Homo sapiens: one gene and its partners. The protein of the gene in region 3 purifies or fractionates together with the protein of the main gene of each other region. This does not show direct contact. Each region holds a gene or a part of one and is shown on either strand. Other genes may lie near its edges. The genes, in order: TLE3, PEX7 and TBC1D4.

Evidence for each region.
Region 1: the proteins of TBC1D4 (region 3) and TLE3 fractionate together in Homo sapiens (co-fractionation; one large-scale study listed by BioGRID). This does not show direct contact.
Region 2: the proteins of TBC1D4 (region 3) and PEX7 purify together in Homo sapiens (co-immunoprecipitation; one large-scale study listed by IntAct). This does not show direct contact.

What each region holds. Positions count from the first base shown.
Region 1 is NC_000015.10:70,056,231-70,059,962, forward strand, and holds part of TLE3 (transducin-like enhancer protein 3), read right to left. Parts: intron 3,231-3,732; coding exon 3,180-3,230; intron 2,586-3,179; coding exon 2,433-2,585; intron 2,062-2,432; coding exon 1,929-2,061; coding exon of another isoform or gene 1,920-1,928; intron 1,429-1,919; coding exon 1,229-1,428; intron 145-1,228; coding exon 68-144; intron 1-67. UniProt on the Homo sapiens protein: Transcriptional corepressor that binds to a number of transcription factors. Inhibits the transcriptional activation mediated by CTNNB1 and TCF family members in Wnt signaling.
Region 2 is NC_000006.12:136,909,565-136,912,217, forward strand, and holds part of PEX7 (peroxisomal biogenesis factor 7), read left to right. Parts: intron 1-2,653. UniProt on the Homo sapiens protein: Receptor required for the peroxisomal import of proteins containing a C-terminal PTS2-type peroxisomal targeting signal. Specifically binds to cargo proteins containing a PTS2 peroxisomal targeting signal in the cytosol.
Region 3 is NC_000013.11:75,297,170-75,300,669, forward strand, and holds part of TBC1D4 (TBC1 domain family member 4), read right to left. Parts: intron 2,406-3,500; coding exon 2,161-2,405; intron 1-2,160.

The DNA of each region.
Region 1 (3,732 bases), on a different chromosome or scaffold from region 3:
AATTGGGGGTAGAGTGCTCTCTCCTGCCCACCCTACAAAGCATGCAGTAAGTATAGCCAAAGCTTACGGTTTTCCTCCAGGAATGGAGGCCAGGCTTGAGGGGAGGCCTGTGGCCCGCATCGGGGGGTGAGGGTCAAAACCAACCTGTAAAGCAAGGCAAGACAGCCCTCCATCAGCCGTGCTGCCACACACCCCCACCCCTGCCTCCTCCACCACCCACCCGGGGTCCTACCTGCACGGCTCTGCCACTTTGTAACCCAAGAGACAAGCTGAGCAGAGCAGAGCCCATTGATTCAGAGGAGACACAGGCCCAGGACAGCCCGTGGCAGGGAAGGGGTGACAGTGCAGACCCCACTGTGAACCAGCATCCTCCCTGTTCTGCAAGGCAGAGCTGGCCCTGCCCTACTTCTTTCCTCTCCTGTGGTCCTAGTGGGCCTGCCAGTGGAGAGGAGGCCACCCCAGGTCCAGGAGGTAAAAAGGAAAACTGTCTCCTGAAAAAGGGCCCCTCTCCCCGCCAACCCTAACTCTTCTTTTTATTTTTATTTTTTTGAGATGGAGTCTCGCTCTGCCGCCCAAGCTGGAGCGCGGTGGTGCAATCTTGGCTCACTGCAACCTCTGCCTCCCAGGTTCAAGTGAGTCTCCTGCCTTCACCTCCCGAATAGCGCCTGCCACCACGCCCGGCTAATTTTTGTATTTTTAGTAGAGATGAGGTTTCACCACGTTGGCTGGCCAGGCTGGTCTCGATTTCCTGACCCCAGGTGATCCACCCGCCTTGGCCTCCCAAAGTGCTGGGATTACAGGCGTGAGCCACTGCGCTCGACCCCTAACTCTTATTATTTATTCACCACAATAGAAAGTCTTGTACAACCAGTCCCATCTACGAGACCCCTGCTCCATGGACATCACCTGACTTGCCCTGGGATTCCTACCCCCCAGAGCTGGGAAAGCCAGGTGTCAGCCCCGTTTTGCAGACTAAAAGGGAGGCTGCCTTGCATGAGGTCACAGGGCGGCTCACAGGCCAGTGGGGGATGGAACTCAGGTCTGCTGGCCCCAAAGAGTGTACCCTTCCAGCCAAGTCTCAATTGTTTCCGATACACCTTCCCACAGGGGCAGCTGCCTGGCCTTGAGACCCTGAGGGGCCCCTTTAGCATGTGGGGAGCACCCGTCCAACCACTGGCTCCCCACACCACGCCCAGTCCCCAAGAAAGGAGCCAAAAGGTCTACGTACAGCTCCAAAGCTCACCATTGGCGATCGGCCATAGGCAGCGGCTGCAGCAGCGGCGGCGGCGCTCATCTGGGGTGGGATGTTGTGGAGGCCGGCGTAGGCGCCAGGACTGGTGAGGGAGCCGTTCATCTCATGGTGGCTCATCATGGCGAAGGGCGCCGCATAGGAGCTGGTGATGGAGATGGGCGTGCGCAGAGCCGAGGCTGCGAGGGGTGGGCGTCAGGGAGGTGGGCCTTAGGTGGATTGGGACATGGCCATGGCCGCCTCACCCAGCAATAACCCTCCCTGCATTCTTAAGCTGCCTGCTCCAGGCAGTCCTCTCAGACTGAACCCACCCAAGTGGGATCCCTGCCTTCAGAGCCAAAGAAGCTTAGAGCTTGGCAGATGCACCCACCTCTTTTTACAGAGCAGGATATGGAGGCCCAAATGGGCTTGCTTAGAGCCTCACTGGACTAATGACAGGGGTGGGAACAGATTTTGGGAGCCCTGACCCGTCTGATGCTGCTTTCATGTCTGGCCCAGCAGGGGTCCCAGAAACCCTGGTGTCACCTCCTCAAATCTGACCGTGAAGTCCCCAGGGGCAGGCCCTGGGAGACACTGCCTGTGCTCTATCCCATGCGTGTGTGTCACCCCTGCCCTGGCCAAGAGCAGACCCCCTCCCCCCAATCAGATTAACCCAGCCCATGGTGCCTACCCATTATACCTATCGGGTCCATGCCCGGAGGTTTACCCGGCATCGACCTGAGCCCTGGGGTCGTGCTGGTGCCTGGAGTTGGGGCGTCGTTCCTTGGGGTTGGTGTGTTGGACTTGAGCCCAGGGGTGGAGGATTTGTCGTTCTGAAGAGGGGAGATGCAGAACAAGGGAGGCCATGAGGCTTCCATTCTCCTAGGAGCCGGGCACAACTGGTGCCGGTCCCAACGTGAAGCCCAGAGCCAGACCCTTATGAAGCTTCTGCCGAACAGCCTCTCAATCCTTGCCCAACCTTGTTTGGCAGGGACTGGGGTGATCACTCCCATTTTACAGACGTAGCAACCGAGGCTCAGAAACGTTAACTCATTAGCACAGGCCCAGCAGGCACAGAAGGTAAACCGGGGCCAATCACCCACCCAGCTTCTCCCACTCCACCCCTCTGCCTGCCAATCGGCACCACCCCAGCTCCAGTCCCTGCCGCTCCCTTCCCACTCCCTTCCACCCAGACCCCACATACATGACCAAGGTCTTTGGTCTTGGAGGAAGGTGTGCTACTGGAAGAGGCCACCGAGGCAGGGCTGGTGGGGGCATCTTTTTTCAGGCTACGGGCCTTGTCCAGCCCATTTTCAGGAGGGGAGTGTGCCGGGCTGACCCGGGGCGTTGCGGGGTCCTGAAAACACAAGTGATGCAGAGATGCACTGAAAGCAACAGCCAGCCTCGAGGCTTCCCTGCTCTGGGAGTGGGAAGAGAGAGGGCATGGGCGATGGGAAGACGAGCTTGGCTGAAAGACTGGGGGCCCCACAGTGAGGAAAAACTAGCTCTTAACCATCTGGTCTGACTGAGGCCTAGGGAGGGTGGAAGGATGGTCTTCCCAATGTCAAACACAAGTTCAGGACTTCAATCAGCATGGCTGGGTTTGGCCAAATGTAGATGCTCTCCAGCTCCTCCTCAGGCCCCTGAGGCTGAGACCCTGGGGGGACGGAGGATCACGGGGAATAGAAGATGGCCCCTACCTGGGATCTTTGGGGGTGTCTCTCTGGAGACCCATTGCAGGAGGCCCTCCAGGCCCATAAATGCCCAGACACCATGCAGCAAAGCCCTGCCCTGCTCCTCTTGACCCCCTGAGACCCCAAGACTGGAGGCCTTGTCTCCCTGCTCAGGCTGCCAGTAATACTAGAACAGACAGAATAGATCCCACCCTGGGGAGGAATAATTCCAAACCATGCCAAACCAAGAGCCCCCTTGCGACCGGGCCTGCCCATACCTCATTGGAAACATCCACCACCAGATCATCACTCTTGTCTCCATCACTGTCCTGCAACCAAGAGAGAAGCCAACTGGTCAGTAAGAGGCCACACTTTCCCCACCCCTGACTGAGCCCAAACCACCCTGTCCTTCTACTGGCCAGGACCTGAAGCCAGGCCAAACCCCAAAGTCCATGCTTTCTACTCCAGCCCTGCCCTTCAACAGGCTCCACTCCAGCTCAACACGGTCTCCCCGTGAGGCTGTCCCCTAGCCCAGGCCCCGGGTTACTCCACTCCTGTACCCACTGGGCAGCCGCACTGACACCCGCTCCATCATAGCAGTTCTAAGCCCCTGCCCCCACAGCCTGCCCTTCTGCTTCTCTCTGAAGCCAGAACCTTCTTCCCAGCTGGTTTTACATCCACCATCCTTCACAGTCAGTGTGCTGCTCTCACCTGGTCATTCCCACCCATCTGTGTGGGATAGTAACTTGCCTCCTCTCACAGAAACACAGCTGAGTGTCCTTTGGGTGCTCAATGTGTCCAAAGCCACACAGCAGCCATGTGGCTGAAGAG
Region 2 (2,653 bases), on a different chromosome or scaffold from region 3:
CTCTTTGTTAGTTAGTAAAGTGCTTTTTTCTTACCTTATTATTATTTTCTTTATTGTTAGCTTGCTTAAATTTGTAGAACCAGATAGGGCTTAATTAACAAATAGAGGAATACTATTTTCATCAATTTGAATTAATCTATTCATAATTCTATATCATTGCAGTTTTAGATCTATCTTAATCCAATTAAGTATAGATTTATGAACATTTGCTGAATCAGTGGCCTTGACATTTGGTAGTTATTATAAGTCCTGAATAAATAAGAAGCTGGATTGGAGAGTGCCGAATAAGGTTTCAGAAACATAATTTATAGATACCTTGCACTAGAAACCTAAGTCTTATTTCTCTGATTCTCTTCTCTCCAGTAGCGGATGCTTAACATGTGGGAAGGCCCAGCACTTGAAAAAAATAGGCATAGATGAGACAGGGGTAATTTAACATAATGATCTTTGTGTCCTATGGTATAAAAACTGAAAACTGCAAGATTAGGCAAATAATGGTTTTCAGTTTGCCTTTTCTATGAGGCACTGTTTTAGTGGATACATTCAACAGGTTTAGGTTCTGGCTGTAGCTCTGCTACTCTATTGTGAACATGAGGACAGAGTTAACCTCTGAAATTGTAATCTATGAAATTAATTTGTTGAGCCAATATTCATTGAGTTATGTTCTAATAAGACATGGTCCATGCCCTCAAAGAGCTGAAGACAACTCTTTGTCTTCAGTTGGGAAAATAAGTACAATCAAGTATTATGGGTACAATGAATGACTTCATAGAGGAGATGATACCTAAACTGATTTTTTAAAAAAGAGACATCTCTGGCAGAGCAAGGCAAAGGGGACAGAGGAGCAGACAGAAAGGGAGGGAGAAGAGGAGTTATTAAAGGGAAGCGATCAGTAAAGGAACAAGAGCGAAGAGGCATAAGCAGCATGCTTGGATTTGAGGTGTGAGCCCGGTGCAATGAGAAATGAAATGGGAACAACCAGATCTTGAAGAGTGAGGTTTTTAAATTTAAAAGTTTGACTAAAAAGTCTATAATGCTCTCTGTAGCTTGGATTCTGATCTCAGAATATTGGTAGTGAATGATTGGCTATCACTATTCAAAATTAGTGATAGCCAAGAAATTACATTAGTCAAAACGAGGTTTCTCTTGTGTAATTTTCAGCCTTTGTAATAAGCATGAAAGGCTGGGAAATGGAGTGCAAATACTTTTGGTCAAAAGCACTCTCTTGCTACTTCATCTTTCATTTTACTGCCTACCTTGTTTCTTTTCTTCTTTTTTTTAAATTGTGGAAAATTTTGAAAACATACAAAGTAACAGAATCAGATAACGAACTTCATTACTTAGCTTGAACAACTATCAACATTCTTATTTTATTTATTCCTGTACTCTCACACATCGTTTAGTTATCGCTAACATTATTTTTACTATTTTTAGGTATAATTCACATATATTGAAATTTACAAATCTTAGATATACATTTTTGACAAATAGATACGTCTGTGAAATTCACATCATCCCAGTTATTGGAAACTGGGAAAGCCCCCAGTTTCCTTTTTACCCCTTTCCAATCTCCCCTATCCCCACCCTTCCCTCCAGGTGAGAAGAGTAACATTGTTCTGACTTTTTGTTTGTTTGTTTGTTTACCTTAGATGAGTTTTGCCTGTCTTAGAATTCTATAAGGAACTCTTCTGTATGTCCTCACTTGTTTCTGGCCTCTTACCTGTGAGCTTCACCCGTGGTACTGAGCCTGTTAGCAATTCCTCCCTTTGTTTTGCTGAGCACATGCTGTTGTATGAATTTACTACAATTTGTTACCGATTCTTTTGTTAGTGGGTATTTTGGTTGTTTTCCTTTTTTTTTAGACAGAGTCTCACTCTGTTGCCTAGGCTGGAGTGCAGTGGCATGATCTCGGCTCACTGCAACCTCTGCCTCCCAGGTTGAAGCGATTCTCCCACCTCAGCCTCCCTAGTAGCTGGGATTACAGGTGCACACCACCACACCTGGCTCATTTTATGTATTTTAGGTAGAGGTGGGGTTTCACCATGGTGCCCAGGCTGGTCTCAAACTCCTGACCTGAGGTGATCCATCTGCCTCAGCCTCCTAAAATGCTGGGATTACAGGTATGAACCACTTTGCCCAGCCTTGTTTTCGATTTTTTGCTATCGTGAATGAAGTTGCTATGAACATTCGTGTCTACATTGTTTTGCAAACATATGTTTTCATTTTTCTTGGACAAATATCTGGGAGTGGAATTACTGGGTCAAAAGATAGGTATGTGTTTAACTTGGTAAGAAACGGCCAAATTGTTTTCCAAAATGGTGGTACCATATACCTTCCCTACCAGCAATGTATGTGATCACAGCTGTTCCACATCCCTGCTGACATTTGGTGTTGTCAATCTTTAATTTTAGCCATAATGTGAATATATGGTGGTATCTCATTGTCATTTTTATTTGCATTTCCCTAATCCCTAATGATGTTGAGCACTTTTTTATGTGCTTACTTTTGCCCATCATTTTTCATTAGATTGCCTTTTATTATTGAGTTGTATTGGTTCTTTATGTATTCTTGATACAAGTTGTCAGGTGTATATTTTATGAATATTTTATATAACTGTGTCTTGCCTGTTCATTTTCTTAACAGTGTCTTTTGA
Region 3 (3,500 bases):
AATTATAGACATAAAATACTTCTTGGTACTTACAGTCCATATTAAATGAATGTATAAATCCGATTTACATGAATTTTTGTAATGTCAAATTGATGAATAATTTTTAAGTTGAAATATCATTGTATTTTTAAACTGATAGCTATTATCCTTTTATCTGTGGACCCAGATCAAACACTACTCACAGGTACTTCCCTGTATCTTTGAAATTCTAATAATAGCTACCAAACCGTTGTTTCTGAAAATCAGAATTATTGAATTCCTTACAAGACCATCTGATTCCTATCTGATATTAAGATACAGGTGACCAGGCACAGTGGGTCACGCCTGTAATCCCAGCACTTTGGGAGGTCAAGGCAGGTGGATCACCTGAGGTCCGGAAGTTTGAGACCAGCCTGCCCAACACAGTGAAACCCCAACTCTACTAAAAATACAAAAAATTTAGCAGGGTATGGTAGTGCATGCCTGTAATCCCAGCTACTCGGGAGGCTGAGGCAGGAGAATCACTTGAACCCAGGAGGTGGAGGTTGCAGTGAGCCAAGATCGCGCCACTGCACTCCTGCCTGGGTGACAGAGCAAGACTCCGTCTCCAAAAAAAAAAAAAACGATAAAAAGATAAAAAGATACAGGTAAACTCTTTAGGAATAAAAAATAAAACTTTCCACAGTTGTTATTTGACTTGTTAAACCTACGAATAGTCATCAATGAGGAATCAAATCATATGAACTCACACCAGAAAACCTAATGTTGATAGCAAAGCCCTATCTCCCCAGTCAAAATTTTACCTTCAGAAAGTAAAGAAAAATGGAATACTTCATCTCCATTCATACTCTCAAAAAATATCATTTACTATAACGCTCAGACTAAAAATACAATTCTTTTGTTATACATTGGCAACTGAGATATTAAAGGCAAAAAACTCATCTCTGGGAAACAGAAAAAAATAGTATATTTTAAAAGCATCTTTAAACTATTACTTCTTATCTAAAGCACAGTATTATGATGAACTGGGAGTCATGCATACCTCATTTCAAGGGAGGAAAAACCTGAGAATCCTCTTTAAAGTCTTCTTTTATATTTTTAACCACTGAAAGCTTTAAATTGCCAGGCAGTGGTTGTTTAAGTATCTATAGACAAAATTTAAACTGCTTATTAGCAACCAACCCACTTAGAGAAGTGAAAACTAGGAGAGAAATGTGCAAACAGGGAGTCTGAGGTAGGCTAAAGACAGCAGTGGCAGTTAATACCCCACTCAAAATACCTGGAAAATCTTAATGGTGCTTCTTCAGAGCCTGCTAAGAAAAGCAGACTCAGTGGCTCAAGCCTGTAATCCCAGCATTCTGGGAGGCTGAGGCGGGCGGATCACCTGAGGTCAGGAGTTCAACACCAGCCTGGCCAACATGGTGAAACCCCATCTCTACTAGAAATACAAAAAAATTAGCCAGGCATGGTGGCACCTGCCTGTAATCCCAGCTACTGGGGAGGCTGAGGCAGCAGAATGGCTTGAACCCGGGAGGCAGAGATTGCAGTGAGCCGAGATCGTGCCACTGCACTCCAGCCTGGGCAACAAAGCAAGATTCCATCACACACACACACACATACACACACACACACACAAAGCAGACTGAAAAGGCACCACTGGCTTTCACACTTTTTCCTCTGTAAAGGCCTATCTTACATGAAGATAAAGGAGGGGAGATATCAATGATAAGTTCAAAAAGAACCATAACATGGTATCTGCTATTTGTGTACTCAAAAGTAAAGGGATAAAGATACTTTCAGATTGTAAACAAAAGATCTGTGAGCCTTTTCAACTGAGAAGTTGAGAAAAAGTGAATAAAGATGATTTGATACCTTCTCCATGTAACCCATAGACTTAGGGCATAAAGGACTGGGTCCTCATCACCTACCTTTCTTAAATTACTTATTTACTTACTTCAGGAATTTTATGGAAAAGGTATTCTGCCTCTGGGTCTCATACACTTAGAAGTTTACCTAAATAGCAAATCCCACACTAAGTGAACTAAAACATGCCCCAATCTTTACCCAAGTTCTAAGACAATGGCTCTACATTTCTTTAAATCTGAACTGTAATAATTGAGAAGAGGGCCAGGATTTCTGGTAATAGTCTCACACCTTCCTCGGGAAGCACAAGTGCCTCACCTGCAGCGACATCATGTCAGGTCTGTACTGCTTGCGGAAGCCGAGGTCATACATGAGGAATTTCAGCATTTCAAAGGCTTGCTCTTCACTCATGTGCAGAAGCAGGACTCCAGCCACAAAGCTGATCCCCTGACAGTATCCCACTTCTTTGTCCAGCAAAGAATAGGCTTTCAGGAGGTTAAACAGTGACAGCTGTCCTGGCCCAAGCTGTACTGAAAAGTAAGGGTGAGTAGGAAACGTCCTTCCTGCAGAGGAAAAGAAGGAAAATATTTTTTGAAATGTCCTCATGCCTTGGAGACAACAGTGAAATTGCAATTCAGTGACCTCCAAGAATAAACAGACACTCTTTCCCAAACCAGTGAGAGTTGCTTAGAGTCACCATGTAACTAAGAGTCTCTCCCTCTCTCACCCCAAGTTCTGCCAGGCCACCATACCATCTTCACATATACGATATGGGAGGAAACATTTTATGCTAACCAGTACTTCTTTCCAGCAAAAAAAAAAAAAAAAAAAAAAAAATACAATAAAAATCCACAAACCAATGATGTACCCAGGAGAAATACCAGGAAAATGGAATATAAATTTTATTCTGACTATAAAGCAAGGCAAATTCTAATTCATATAAAGACTACCTTCTAAATGAAACCAGAAGTCTGTAAGACATATTATATTATTTAAAAGAAAATCTTCATAGTCTATAAACAGGTTTATTTCTGCTTTTCTTATGACACTGGAGGGACTTTTTGGGTTTGTTTGACTTTACATTCAGACTGTCATTCAGAAGAAAACTGCTTTTTCAACTATCGTTCGCTCTCTGCTCTTAAAATACCTCCATGAGCCATGTAAACCACTTTTCTTTTTCAATATCTAAAAATATCAAGGAAAATAAAGGGTCAAGTCAATTTCAAATAAATTCCCCTCTAAAATATACCTCTAGGTATAAAATTACCACAGAGACACTTGAGCTGGCAATGTGAGTCCTGCATCACTAAAAGGAGAGTTCTATACACAGAAACAAATCCGTCTTCACATCAAAGCTGTCTATATTGGTATGGGCATTTTTCTAGGGCCACAAAAATGAAGGGGGATGTTAGCTTCCTTGTGAAATGATTACTCATGTCATTTAGAACTTGCAAGAGTGCCAGGTTTTAAAATGTTTTCTCCCACATATGCTTAAAAGTGATTTTTTTTTCTAGGAACCAATAAGATTAATTCTGCAGAGCCAGTAAGAGGAAGATATGAGAAAATAACAATTGCATGCTGAAGAAACACAGATGGCTACAAGCAGAGCCAAATAAGCAATTTTTAAAATTATGGTTTTACTTTCTCACTTAAAATTT